Linked DNA regions of Homo sapiens. The protein of the gene in region 2 purifies or fractionates together with the protein of the main gene of each other region. This does not show direct contact. Each region holds a gene or a part of one and is shown on either strand. Other genes may lie near its edges.

Region 1 (7,462 bases), on a different chromosome or scaffold from region 2:
CTTTGAAGAACCAAAGCTTTCAAAATCTTTCAGCTCTTACGTTTCTGGATTTTTCACTATTTCTGAGCCATATGCTAGCAGATGGTCACAGCATAAGGACCGTGTCACAGGAGTGACTTGTTTCAGTCCTCAACACAGTCCAATTTTACCCTGCCAGATAACCCGGTATGTTTCTTTGTTAGACACGAGGAGCTGATTCTCTCTCTGCCTTGGCTTTAAGGAAGCTCTGAGCTCATTTATGCAGTTTTCTTTTGCCCCAAGCTGTCAGGAATAATTATGTCCATTTCCAAATTTTTTTTAGACTTTTATGTAACTGTAATCCTTTATCTTATACGGTTGCAACATTTTTTTTTTTTTGGCAAGAAGTAGAGGAATTAATTTAAACATATCAATAAGACTCTACACCATCACCTCATCCCAGTGCAGGGAGAACCCTGCCTGAGTACCATGCTTCAAACTCAGAAACACCCACCACAAATACCAAAAGATTTATTGTAGACAATTTTGTTACACAATTATACACATTATGATACACGTTTGAAACATTAACACACGTGGAGACTGCTAAATCATTTAATATTTCTTTTGCAAAAAGATAATTTCTTTAGGCTGTGATACCTGCAATAACCAATCTGTTCTCATTTGGATCAGATCTTTCTCCCTCTGTCCTGGAGATCTCACAGTTCACTTTGCTGAAGCAATCTATCCACTTCCCTATCGACCTTGCTTATAGCAGTTCAGGTATAGACTATTTGAGCCTTATATACTAAACTGTTAAGCCAGTGCGTGCCCTATGCCCTGCTGAGAATAGATTCCTTCTGTACTTGCAGCCCTCAGATGCTGAATTGATCAATCAATTTTTGAGACGGGGTCTCCTCTGTCACCAGGGCTGGAGTGCAGTGGTATGATCTTGGCACACTGCAACCTCCGCCTCCTGGGTTCAAGTGATTCTTCCTGCCTCAGCCTCCCGAGTAGCTGGAATTACAGGCACACACCACCATGCCCAGCTAATTTTCTGTATTTTTAGTAGAGACGGGGTTTCACCATGTTGGTCGGGCTGGTCTCGAACTCCCAACCTCAGGTGACCCACCCACCTCGACCTCCCAGAGTGCTGGGATTACAGGCGTGAGCCACCATGCCCGGCCCAGATGCTCAATTTAAAAGGCAGAGTTTATTCAGTCACTCCCCGCCTTACCTTCCTGACTCAAACATCTACAGGACCCATGAAAACAGGAATTACGTTGCTTGGGTAAGTTTCTCTGACTCTGACTCACAGGTTTCCGATTTTCCTGGAGCAGAATAGAACAGATTTCTGACTGGGCATGCATTCTTTGTTCTGCCTTCCACACAGGCTGTGTTAGGAAGTCTGAGATGGGGCGCCTCCAATAGACCCGGGCACCTGGCAGCGCCACCTTCTCCTGCCTGCCACTCCCTCCCATCGAGGGGGCCTCTGCTTGTGGACACAGACTAATCTCACTGCTTCTGGGCACTGGCATCCTTATTTCTGGGCATGGGCAGTTACTTCTCCAACTTTAAGGCACTCACTGGTATTTCTTTTAAATACTTTTCTTCTTGGGAAAAACTCCTTAACAGAGAAGAGTATATACAATCCACGGATAGGACAGACGACCCCAGAAGAGCCTGCCGGGCGCCGCTCCCCACTGGCCACTCAGCATGGGGTCAGCAGCAGAAGCTCCTGCAGGCCATGCAGATGGCGTGGAACCTGCGATCTGCTTCGCACACATGTGTAACGCTGCTACACTTCTGCCAAGTGTCTGGGACTGGTGCACACAGTCTATTCCTAGCATAGTGAGTTTTCTTGGTTATAATCAAACCTCTTCCTGACTCCTGTTGGGACCTCTCCGTCCCTTGCCACTGCTTTGACAATGGTTCTAGTAATGCTCTCGTGCTCAAAAAAGGAATTCTGCTCAGTCTGCCGTCTCTCAGGCCTTCATGGTTCTTGGCTCTAGGTATGGCCTCTTCCTATAGCTGACTCACTTGGGCTCAGAGTACAGCCCCTCCACACCAAGGCCAGGCATGGGAGAGAACCACCTGCTGAAGGCTGAAGCCCAATCTCTCTTCAGGGTAACTGCTGGAGCTACTGGTAACTCCAGCCCACAAAATGGGTGAAATCTCTAGCCTGCCACTCATTTTCTACCTCCTGGGGAGGCGGGCCCAAGGAGCCCCCTTAAGCACACCCAGGGAGAAGGGCCTGAGGCACACGGCCTGGCCCGCTCTCGTGGGGCCTTTACAAAGACTGCAGAAACGCTGGCCGACAAAGCACGGATCCACTGACAGCCTCACTCCACACTCAGGAAACAAACTCCTGTCCTAGGAGGATTTCATCTGGAGTGCAGCGTGCTGGTGACACGTGGGAACAGGCAGCGGCAAAGGTTGGGTAGCCATGACATGCCGAGTCACACTGGAAACCACCTCCTTCCCGAGCAGCAGGGTCCTCAGTTACAGCTTCGCTGTGCCTTCAAAGCCTGCTTCTCCAGGGCACCTCACTCCGCTCACTGGTCCTCATTCAATATTCCCATGTGTTTGTTTGTGAGGAAGTCCAGAAAAGGAATGTTGCAAATGGCCTGGTGAATATTACTCACTGTAATTTCTTTGGGAATCCTGGTCCAAAAAACAAAGGGTGTTACCAGGTGAAATTCTCTCACGTATATCTCATCATTTATTCACTTAACTCATCACAGGGACCATCCCAGGCAGAGGCCCCGTGGAGAGGGCTCCTGAGCCACAGACATAGCTTAGGGCCACTCTGGGGTGAGGACTGCCTTCCTGTCATAGGCATGAGAAGGATGTCAACAAGTTGGTTGAATAATTAGGAAAAAAGATTCTGAGAACTGAGAAAAGAGAAAGAAAACAAAGCGGATGGCAGAACGGAATGACACATTTGTGAGTGAGTCTCAGCAGACCGAAAGCTGAGTCAAAGCACCACAAAACTCTGGGACCTTATTTCCCATCTCCTAGAAAGACGGGAGACGGAGCCACGCCAGGCCAGGCGTGATGTTAATCGTTCCATCAAAAGCACCTAAGTCACTCTACCCCTCCAGGACAGGGAGCACAGAGGTAAGCAGGGGCCACAGGAGGCCCTGGCTCACTTGTGGGTCCAAGCAGGACAGTGGGCAGCAGGACCGGAACTCTTGGTTCCCCTTCCTTTTCTCTAAAGACGCCTATGTTGTCTGATATATTCCTGTGAAGTTTCATCTACTATTCCTCTGATTTAGGCCCTTCATGTCCTCAGGCACTTTGCTACAATTTTATAAATCTGTGACAGCCTTTAGCATAATGCAATAAAATAATATTTGTTTCCTCCGAAAGAAAAGCAGATGTGGCCTATCTACCATCCTTTCAGGGCCTAGGAACAGACTGAAACTCAGTGTCTTAATCAAAGACAACGAGTCAGCAAAGAGCAGTGGCGAGCCCAGGGGCCTCAGAGCCAATGAGACCTGAGTCGGAAGTCCAGGTCTACACTGTATTTGCTGGGTAAGCTGGGTAAAATTACCTTTCAAAGCCCGGTTTCCTGATTTTTAAAAAGAGAATAATAGTTCTGCAATGAAAAACAAATTAGGTAATATATGCAACGCTTGGCCCTCGTGTCTGACATGTAATGGACACTGTTATCTTTAATTGCAAAGCTAATATTTATTCAACCCTGTAATAAAACAGAGTCCTAGGTGTCTGTGAAGTAATGAGGAGGATATAAACCTCTGAGCAAAGCTGAGTGAGCTTTCACAACCATGAGGTTCTCTAAAAATGACAAAGCAGACCCTTGAGCTCATCTGGCTCTAAGAGTGTCCTAAGCACTCACTCCATCTCCTACTGGATTGATGTAAGTATAAAACACCTTCATGGGCAATTCAACTGTTAGGAAAGAGGTGTAAGCCTCACACCACAGACTGCAGAGATAGTAATACCTGTTGTGAGAAGCTGTCTGGTATCCAACTGCCAAAGCCTGTCTCAGGATATCATTCACCAGCTGTTCTGTAGCCTACAATGGAAGATGCTGTTATTCTTCAAATGGCCATCTGCTTGCTGGCAAGAAGGGACACATTTAACCCCATCCCTTACCCCAAATGTTTGAAACCACTGCAACTAGGGATTAAAAAGTCCTTAAGAAAAAATTAAAGGCCTCAATAATAGACCATAATGATAAAGGCCATGATTCTGAGAAATTATGAATTGGAGTGATTTTCATTAATCAGACATTATTCTATTTATTTATTTATTTTGAGATGGAGTCTCACTCTCGCGCCCAGGCTGGAGCGCAGTGGCGCGATCTTGGCTCAGTGCAACCTCCGCCTCCCGGGTTCAAGCGATTCTCCTGCCTCAGCCTCCCAAGTAGCTGGGATTACCAGGTGAGCGCCACCAAGCCCAGCTAATTTTTTATTTTTAGTAGAGATGGGGTTTCACCATGTTGGCCAGGCTGGTCTCCAACTCCTGATTGCAAATGATCCACCCGCCTCGGCCTCCCAAAGTGCTGAGATTACAGGCATGAGCCACCGCGCCCAGCCCTAGACATTGTATTTAAGGAAAGCAGTTGTTACGGAGGTATCCCTATTCTTGGAGAGGATCCACGAGGAAAGGAACTGCTGAGCTAGGATCAGGCTGGGGAAGGAGGCTGCGGCATTTTCGTCCCCTTGCCAGGGTCAGGACAGTTGGGGCTGTTTGCTGTTGTGACGTGTACAGAAAACCATAGGCTTTGTCTCTGCCACCTCCTAAAGCAACGAGCACACTGACCACCACCCCCAGAATACGTCTTAGGAGGCACCTGAAACCACATGACTCAGAGGAAACATAACTTAGTCCATTTAAAAATCAGAAGGAAAAAAAACAAAAAAACAAAAAGAGAGAACTTAAGCCCAAATAAGACGAGACATTTTAAAGCCTGTTATCTTTGTTCCTTTTCTGTCCTTGCCCCTTACTCCAAACCGCCTGGGATGCAACCATCCTTCCTGGCTGGCGGCCCCTGCAGGCACCCACCTTCAGGATCATGTCCTCCACCACGGACGCATACACGTTCCTGTGGAGTGCCACGGGCTGCAGGGTGATCCCAATCTGGAAAAGCAGAAGAAAGCCGTTTGTTCGTATCGCTGCTTTAGAAACAGCCTCTCTCCAAACAAGCATACCTCCCTGACATGCAAAGCGATGCCTGGTTGGAAGGAGGACTCTGCAAACATATTGGGCAAAATTCACGGGAAAGGAACACGGAATATAACATCTAGAAGAATGTTATCTTGTTTTTCCACATTTCTGGCTGATATTTAAAATATGACTATAATCCTATTAAAATCTCTCAAATCTCCTTCGTGGGAGAACATGGTTGGGATCTGCCTGGGTTCTGATACGCAATCAACACTTTGAAAGGTCTGGAATCAGACTCCAACGTCCTGTTTGCACTTGGAAACTGCATCTTGCCCATTCTTCATGGCATCCAATGAAAGCACACTGTCTTTCACCTTGGGCCCTGAGCAACTGGCAGATGCTGAAGAGCTGTTAGGCTCCAGCAGGGTGGATAAATACCTCTCTCCTGTATAGTAAGGCAGGTGCACGCCATCTGCACCACAGGCGGGGCACTCAGGAGCTATCAACACATCAGGGGAGGATTACGCGCTGACGTGCAACTCAGAAAGAGTACGACGTGCCTCATGAGGGAAAGGTGCTTCTACTGAGGCAGATGAGAAAAACAAGATGAAGAGTAATCAACCATTTCTATCTAGCCAGCTTTGCTTCACGTCTGCGTTCAACAAGCAATGTTTTCACATGTAATTAGCATTTCTGCCCAAGGGCTCTGATGTGGGACGGTGGGAGCCCTGAGAGCACACCTGGGTCAACCAGGCAGAAGGAAGTCAAGCATCTACGGCACCAGAAGAGTCTGGGTCTGAGTCTGTGTCTGTGAGGCTGAACACCTGGGTCTGGGTCTGTGAAGCTGAACGTCTGAACATCTAGCTCTGAGCTGGTCTGCTGCATGAACTATTAACACCACAACCCCTACCTTCTGTGTGACATCCCCAATAAATTCAGACCCTGGGGTTGGTGGCAGGTAGAACTTGACTTCCTCTTGTTTCTCTTCCTGCTCCTTCTTGATGTTTATCTTCACTGGCTCGGAGAGGCTGAGGATGTCCACCTCCTCCTCATTCTCGGGTTCCCTTTTCTGGAACTGTTGCAGGTCCTCCAGTTTGCGGCAGAGGTTGTCAGCAGAGGAGAATGATGATGGGCACTCTAAATGACAGGCAAGCAGTGTTACAACAGCTGTGGGGCCAACGGAAGAGGACTTTCCGTCTCCAAGAGACCCATGGTCTGAGGAAGGGGGATAAGCATCAGGGGAGCTGACCTTCTTTCCAGTTCTAACATTCTATGGATCTATAATGATGAGAACTAGTAATTCACGAGGGAGAAAGGCATAAACACAGGCATCTTGTGTGTGATCTATGTAAGGTAACTGCCATCTAAGATGAAAGAGTAGGAATTCTCACTTCTGCCACCAAAAACCAGGTCATCCCCCTCCCTCTGAGTATTAAGGACTGACCTGATTTTTCCTCATCTCAAATCTGGAAAATTTAGAAATGCAGAGTGAAGAAAATAAAAAGAATCACCCCTATTCTCACTGCTCAGAGAGCAGGACTGTTAACATTTCAATGTATATTATGGGTCCAGTCTCTAATAAGGTGATTTATACAAAACCTAATCAGGAGTGTGAGGACCTCAAGGCCAGATCTAGGGCACTAGTGCCCTTCCACTTTCTGGATGAGTGTGTGAGGTCCACACCAGGTACAAGATTTAAGGGCACCCAGCTCCTGGCCTTTTGTTTTACTGACTGGGCTCTAACAAGCTCCAGCTGCTCCTCAAGTTATGATGGCTGGGGCTATATCCTGAAAAACCCATCGTAAGTTGAAAATATCATTTTTGACTTAGGATATTTTCAACTTACGATGGCCTTATCTGGACAAGGCCATCGTAAGTCAAGGTATGTGCTGATGCCTACAGCTTTCAGACCATTGTAAAGTCACAACATCAAATCACAGGTCAAACCATTGTAGGTTAGGGGCCGTTTGGAATCAGTCAGATTAAAAGGAAGCCTAGTATGTGCAAGTACTGTGCTTTCCACACAATGTCAGTGAAGCCCGGGGATCATTAACACGGTCTCTGCTCTCCGAGTAGCTTACACAGCGAAGTCAGACAAGCCCTCATGCTGTTGATATTAAGCGCTGCAGGAGATGAGAGAAAGGAGAGGCCATCCTGCATTAGGCTCTCAAGAAGCTTAATGGCAAAACTGGGACTTGCCCCCCCTTTTTTTTTTGGACAGGGTTTTGCGCTGTCACCCAAGCTGGAGAGGAGTGGCATGATTACAGCTCGCTGCAGCCTCAACTTCTTGGGCTCAAGCAATCCTCCCTCCTCAGCTTCCCGAATAGGTGGGACTACAGGCATGCACCACCATGCCCGGCTAATTTTT
Region 2 (7,231 bases):
TGCCATATAGCTACAAATAAATCAAAATATCCTTGGTGAAATTCTCTTAACTACAGAAAGAGAAGTAGCTACCCATGTGCTTGGCTTAGGTCAAAGTGGAAAATGCTCTGACTAGTTCACTAGGTAGAACAGCATTTATTCAAATTTAGAAGTAACTCTATAACCATTACAAAAGTTAGTTCATCTCTCCCCCATTCTTCAGGAGATAATGTTCCCCTATTGCATGATGTTTCCCCAAAGTCAGACATTTAAACTCTCCAGATTAAAAAACAAGTGATTTTTTTTTAGAAAGTAGGCTAAAACTTTACAATCATTTAATTTCCACAAAAGCTCAGCAAATAAAAGATGACTGAAGTACAGGACTGCTAAGTATACACGTCACTCTTAATCATGACCAAAATACCTAATTTCAACAACTATTGGCCATTTATAATATTCTGGCCCTAACACTTACTGACTGAAATAACTAAAATTCACTTAAAAAGGAAATTAAGCATATCATCCAGGCATATCATAACCATAGGACTTATATGAAAGAAAAATTATGTGCAGGAATACAGTCATAAATCTTTCACTATGACTTTCCTTAAAATTAAGAAAGTGAAATGAGAAGAAAATACAAAAGGAGAACTCCTGAGAAGAAAGTTGCACTTTACGGCCAGGCAGGGTGGCTCACGCCTGTGATCCCTGCACTTTGGGAGGCTGAGGAGGGCAGATCACCTGAGGTCAGGGGTTCGAAACCAGCCTGGACAACGTGGAGAAACCCCGCCTCTACTAAAAATACAAAAATTAGCCAGGCATGGTGGCAGGCGGCTGTAATTCCAGCTACTCGGGAGTCTGAGGCACGAAAATTGCTTGAACTCAGGAGCTGGAGGTCGCAGTGAGCTGAGATCGCGCCACTGCACTCCATCCTGGGTGACAGAGTGAGACTGTGTCACACACACACAAATAAAAGTTGCACTTTACACTTGAAGCTAGCTTGAAAGGGGTTAATAAGCAGGTAAGTCTCTTAGCTGATTCCCAATTTTTTACCAGCCTATTTGATTTTATAATCTACACACCACAATGTTGTACTGTTCATAAATATAAAAGTTGTACTGTTCATAAATGTTAAGTATTTTGAAAGTAAAGTGGCTTAAACTTAAATTGGAATCTTTTTCTTGGTGGGGAGGCTCACAACATGCTTTGAAATAACTGAAGATACTACATGGTATCATAAAAATTAGAATGGGAATCACTGCTTGAGGAATTCAAAGAATGAAAAGCAAGCTACCAAGTCATAAAAGTCCAAAAAGCCATTAGCTGGCCAGGAATCCTGTACCATAGTTTTTAAAACAAAATTTTTAAGTAGGAAAAAAAAAAAAAAGCAGCTGAGGTACTGCATAAGCCATCAGTGACATAAATTTTAAAATCTACTATTTACCCAAATAGCAATAAAACACAAAAAAGGTCATTAAAACACAAAAAAAGGTCTACCACAGAGTTTAAAACAAAGAAGGCTTTTATTTGATGTCCCCTCCTAGGAGTTCTTGAAAACCATGAATGCCATGAGAAAAATGTCTAAGTGTTGAGATCTCAAGGTACAAATCAGGTTGAGTTATAGGATTTCTCAGGTTACTCGTATCAGAACAGGATGAAGACACAATAAAACAGCTGAATCTCACAAACATAACATTGAGCAAAAAAGGCCAAACACAAAAACAATACATACTGTATAAATCCTAGGCTCAAAAGCAAATAAAATAATTCTGTGGTACTAGACATCAAAAGAGTGATTTCTCTTGGTGAGGGGTGGCACCTAGGGACCATTAATGACCGGAATAAACACACAAGTTTCTGGAGTTCTGACAGTGTTCTTCTTAGTGACGATTACACCAGTGTGCTCACACTGTGAAAATTCACTGAGGTGTACATTTATGAGAACTTTCTGTGTGTATTATACTTTAATTGTATTTATCTTTATTTAAAAAGAAGGAAAAAGAGGAGATTTCTCCTTAGGAAAAGACACATTGGCCGGGTGCAGTGGCTCACACCTGTAATGTCAGCGCTTTCGGAGGCCGAGGTGGGCAGATCACTTGAGGTCAGGAGTTCAAAACCAGTCTCCCCAACATGGCAAAACCCCGTCTCTACTAAAAATACAAAAATGAGCTGCACATAGTGGCGTGTGCCTGTAGTCCCAGCTACTCAGGAGGCTAAGTCAGGAGAATTGCTTGAACCCAGGAGGCAGAGGTTGCAGTGAGCCGAGATCACACCACTGCACTCCAGCCTGGGCAACAGAGTAAGACTCGGTCTCAAAAAAAAAAAAAAAAAGAAACATTACTGCAAAAACACCATAAAAATCTACATATAGTGAAGACAGTTCAGGTAAGAATCATAGGTTTGGGGTGGAGAGTGGAGAGTTAATATAGAGAAGTATTACATCCCCAATAATCTATGGAAATAAAAAAATGTAAATAAAAAAAGAGAGAAGTATTACAAAGTTCTTCAAGGGCTATTAGTGGATAAATCTCACACACACCCCTTTGCCAGGAGAAATAATCTTGGTAGTTCCCTCTATAATACAGCCAAGCCACCTAAAAGCATTATTTCATTTTATTTATGAAACACATCAATCTGCTTTCCAACGGGAAAGTGTGTAACAACGGCAGGATCTATTTTCCTTTAACTTCTGACCAATTAAAAAAAAAACTTTAAAAACTAGTAAGGAGGGTAAATAGTGCCAGAATATAATTAGCAACGCTATTTCCTGGACAATTTCAGTGACATTTTGAAAAAGCAACTCATCTCTCATGTGGCAGCCGAATTCCAGTAGGAAAAAAAGGTGTTAAGTTATGTTCCAATCCCTTTAAATCTCACCATAACCCAAGACAGAAGGAAATTACATCACATCGAATTGTTCATCTTCAGTTCTCTGTAGGTGTTCTTCAAGCACAGGACACACTTTTTTTTTTTTCAAATATTTATTATTTTTTCACACTCAAAGTTACTTAAATCTGGCTTTTCTTACTAGCATTATTGTAACCAGAAAAATCTGTAAACAGAAAACATTAAAGCCATTTAATAAAATTAACAGCTTTGTAGCCATCACAATTTCAAAATGTAAACAAACATAAATACCTTTTTTCAATTATTTTGAGATCACAAATTATTTCATAACAGAAAAAAAGGCATCATAGTAAACAGTAAGCACTCTCAGTATTAAAAATGCTCTTTGACATAGATACCTTCCTAAAGCTTACCTGAATGTCTATGCTATTAAATTTCAGTAAATGTATCATATTGCTATCTCAACATTTGAAGAAGGTATTGTGATTCTGTAACCTGAGTCCTACAGCTGTTAAATGAAACTTTTTCACTAAATATCTTAGAGGTATATGATATCAAGTTGTATACTGCTGTTTAACACTTTAAGCATACATCCTAAACTGTTAATCTTAGGAGTTAATTTCTCTAATTCCCCAAAATCTGCCAAAGTAGTTTTACTCCTTACAGTCTCTAGTACTGTACTTGTTGGTTGGGGGTTTTTTGACAAGGGTCTCACTGTGTCACCCAGGCTGGAGTGTAGGGGCGCAATCTGGGCTCATTGTAGCCTCAATCTTTTGGGGTCAAGTGATCCTTCCACCTCATCCTCCACAGTAGCTGAAAGTACAGGCGCACGCCACCACACCAGGCTAATTTTGTGTATTTTTTGTAGAGACGAGGTCACACTATGTTGCCCAGACTGGTGTCCAAATCCTGGGCTGAAGCGATCCTTCCACCTCAGCTTCCCAAAGTGTTGGGATTACAGGCATGAGCCACTGTGGCCAGCATAGTACTTTTAAGTAGTTTCACATTTTATCTCTGTTCAAAAAGGGGGAAATTTTCATTTAATGCAACCAAATTATGTGGTATGGAAAAATCTTATTTCAAATTCTGGCTGACAAGAAAAGGAATTATAAAACATTGTTTTGTTAAAAAATAAACTTTATTATCCTCAACTTACAGTAATCTTAAAAATAAATAAGGAAACAAACACCACAATAAGAAAGCCAAGGCAAAAGATATTAAACATATCACAGAATCATCTAAAAACAATATGAATGTTCTTAAGGCTTGGGGTAAAAATAAACAATTTAAAATAAAAATGATTAAAATGTAAAAATGAAGCATAACAAAAAAATGAGAAAAATTAAAAAATTAAATAAAGCATTATTTAACAGAGTTGAGAAAATTACCAATTTGGAGGAAAACATTTAGATTCTCATTTCACACCAATGCCAGATGAGGTAAAAACTTAAATTTATTTAAATCTAACTTAGAAAAACTAAACAAACAGAATTAAACCAATATTGTTTATTACAGTTCTGAAAAGGGAGGAATTTCATAAAATCAGCAGAACAAAATTATATCAAGATGTTTGGGCCAGGCACCGTGGCTCACCCCTGTAATCCAGCACTTTGGGAGGCCGAGGTAAGTGGATCACCTCAGGTCAGGAGTTCCAGACCAGCCTGACTAACATGGTGAAACCCCATCTCTACAAAAATACAAAAATTAGCCGGGCGTGGTGGTGTGCATCTGTAGTCCCAGCTACTCAGGAGGCTGAGGCAGGAGAATTGCTTGAACCCGGGGGGTAGAGGCTGCAGTGAGCCGAGATGGTGCCACTGCACTCCAGCCTGTGCAATAGAGCAAGATTCTGTCTCAAAACAAACAAACAAAAAGATGTTTGACTGCAATAATGTTAAAATCTATTTATCTTCAAAGTTCACAAGATAAATACATCTATAAACATGCTTCACCTCAGTAATTAAATAAATAAAGCACAATATGTCATACACCCCCATTAAACCTTTATAAAAAATGTTAAATGTTGATGAGTATAGGGTAACAACCACTCGAAAGAGAATACAAATTTATCCCTTTTGATTAATATTGTTCAGTATGTTTTAAGAGCCTTCAAAATGTACCTAAAAAATCAATTCTGGCAATATACAAGAGAGAGATAATACTATATACAAGAAACATGTATAAATATGTTCTTCACATAGGGGAATAACATATGTTCACTGCACAGAACATTTTACAATCATTTATAATGATAGTTATTAAGATGCATTGTGAGAATGGGAAAGTGGTACCTAACAGTAGGTTAAAAAGCAGGACATGAAATTAAATGTTTTTACCCACAAATACATAAAAAATATACATTAAAATAATGGAAGAAATATATCAAAATGCTAATAATTGTTATATTAATTCCCAAAATCTAATTCCTCAAACCAGCTTTCAAAATCATTAAAATACATACACACCCCTTATACACAAGTCAAAGACTATCTACTTTACCACTAATGGAAGCATAAGGTTTAAATTAACATAGTAAATGAGACAGAGGAGGCCAGCAATGCAATGAAAAAAACTCACTACAAAAACCTGGCACCTTAGGACACTTGGGCTAATAGACTCAATACCAGGATTCAAAACTATACAACTGAATCATATGCATAGGTCATTTACTAATTCTAATTATCTGCTTTACTATCTTCTCCATTAGCAAATGTGCTAATCTTTAGGCAATTGGTTGTTCATTACTGATATCAAATATTAAATGTAATAGAGCCTTGTTTGGGAGTAATTCCTTGAAATATTAAGTAGAAAGATAAATAGGTTAAAATAATAAAACAAAGGAAGTTCCATACACAGTAGCACCATTTTTATTTGGTGTCATCTGATAAGGAGAGATCTACACGTAAATTTTCCAGAAAATTGAAACTTAACATTTAATTAACAGAGTTTTGAAAATGGTTACTTTTATAGCAATCTCAAAAGACACCAATTTCTTACTTCCTTAAACATAGTACACAGAATAAAAGTTCATTATTAAAGTTATCATTGTGATGCATCAACTTACTAGGCTGCTCTACGATACTGTCATTCCTTCAGAAGTTAATGATTATAGGAGTGTATGTATTTATGTAATGGCCTTAAAACACTATTCTACTATAGTTCCACCTACTTTTTAATAGTTCTTCCTTTTCCCCTGTAGATGACATTTCAGCTGCCAATGTCCCTAACTCCAATGGCCAACACTGAAGATTTTTATCTGTGGACTAATTCCAATTAGTAGTTTCCTAATAAAGGCTAATGGCTTATTATACTTGGTTGCAGTCATTTTGAAGGCTTAGAGATTTTTTTATGTCCAGGATTGCTGTTATGTTTCAAATGGCTGAGGTCATTAGCAATAAATGTCAGCTGAATTACTGCCTCTAACTTACAAATATACTGAAGTTCCAAAACAACAGTAATAATAATATCTGAATAGTTTGATTAATCACAAAGTGATATTCTCCTCAAGGCAAGTTAGTCAACTCACTCCTCTCTAATAAGACAAAAATTACCTACATAAATGAGAAAAATCAGCTGAAAAGAAAAACAGAAAGGTGAGAACGAAAGGGTCAAACAAAATAATCAAGACTTTGGACTTTGGGAAATATTTACTGAGAGTGGTTTTCAGAGTACAATTATAGTGGTTATCAGAGCATTAACTACAGAAATTTGCACCAGAGTATATACCAAATCTCTAGTAAATACTACTATAAAAATGAAACTCTTCTAGCAACTATTTCTTGTAGGTGACTCCAAACTGAATTTTCATATGAAATTTAGGTGTTTTTATTTTATTTTTGACACAGGGTCTCACTCACTCTGTTGCCCAGGCTGGAGTGCAATGGTGCAATCACAGCTCACTGCAGTCTCAACCTTCTGGGTTCAAGCAATCCTCCCTTCTCAGCCTCCCAAGTAGCTGGTACTACAGGCGTGCACTACCAGGCTAATTTTTTTTCTTTTTTGGTAGAAACGTGGTCTGACTATGTTGTTGCTGGTCTCAAGCAATCCTCCCACCTCGGCCTCCCAAAGTGCTTGTATTACAGGCGTGAGCCACCAGGCCCAGCTTAAGGTAACTTAAAGTTACAGGTCTGTGGAAATTGGCATGGTGTCAGACCTTAAGGAAAAAACTCAAGTGAGAATAAATCAGTATTATTATATTATCACTGTTAATAGTTTCCTCTGATCACTGAAGTTCATTAGCTCTCATCATTTATATGACCGTAATAATTGAGAAAAGTGAAAATTAAATTTCTTGGTTATTTAAATTTTACTCAACCAAACACAAACCATGTAAAAATACATTTTTCCTCTTCCTTGGATTTTTCTCAGTATATTTCTACCAAGTACCTCAAATAATTTCGTGTCTGTA

What was found.
Region 1: the proteins of ZZZ3 (region 2) and YEATS2 purify together in Homo sapiens (affinity purification with mass spectrometry; 3 studies listed by BioGRID, with this or other methods). This does not show direct contact.

What each region holds. Positions count from the first base shown.
Region 1 is NC_000003.12:183,805,635-183,813,096, reverse strand, and holds the end of YEATS2 (YEATS domain-containing protein 2), read right to left. Parts: intron 6,232-7,462; coding exon 6,005-6,231; exon of another isoform or gene 5,068-6,004; coding exon 4,993-5,067; exon of another isoform or gene 4,985-4,992; intron 4,368-4,984; exon of another isoform or gene 4,245-4,367; intron 4,001-4,244; coding exon 3,927-4,000; intron 3,079-3,926; exon of another isoform or gene 2,646-3,078; intron 2,623-2,645; coding exon 2,514-2,622; 3' UTR 473-2,513; downstream 1-472. UniProt on the Homo sapiens protein: Chromatin reader component of the ATAC complex, a complex with histone acetyltransferase activity on histones H3 and H4. YEATS2 specifically recognizes and binds histone H3 crotonylated at 'Lys-27' (H3K27cr).
Region 2 is NC_000001.11:77,672,659-77,679,889, forward strand, and holds part of ZZZ3 (ZZ-type zinc finger-containing protein 3), read right to left. Parts: intron 1-7,231.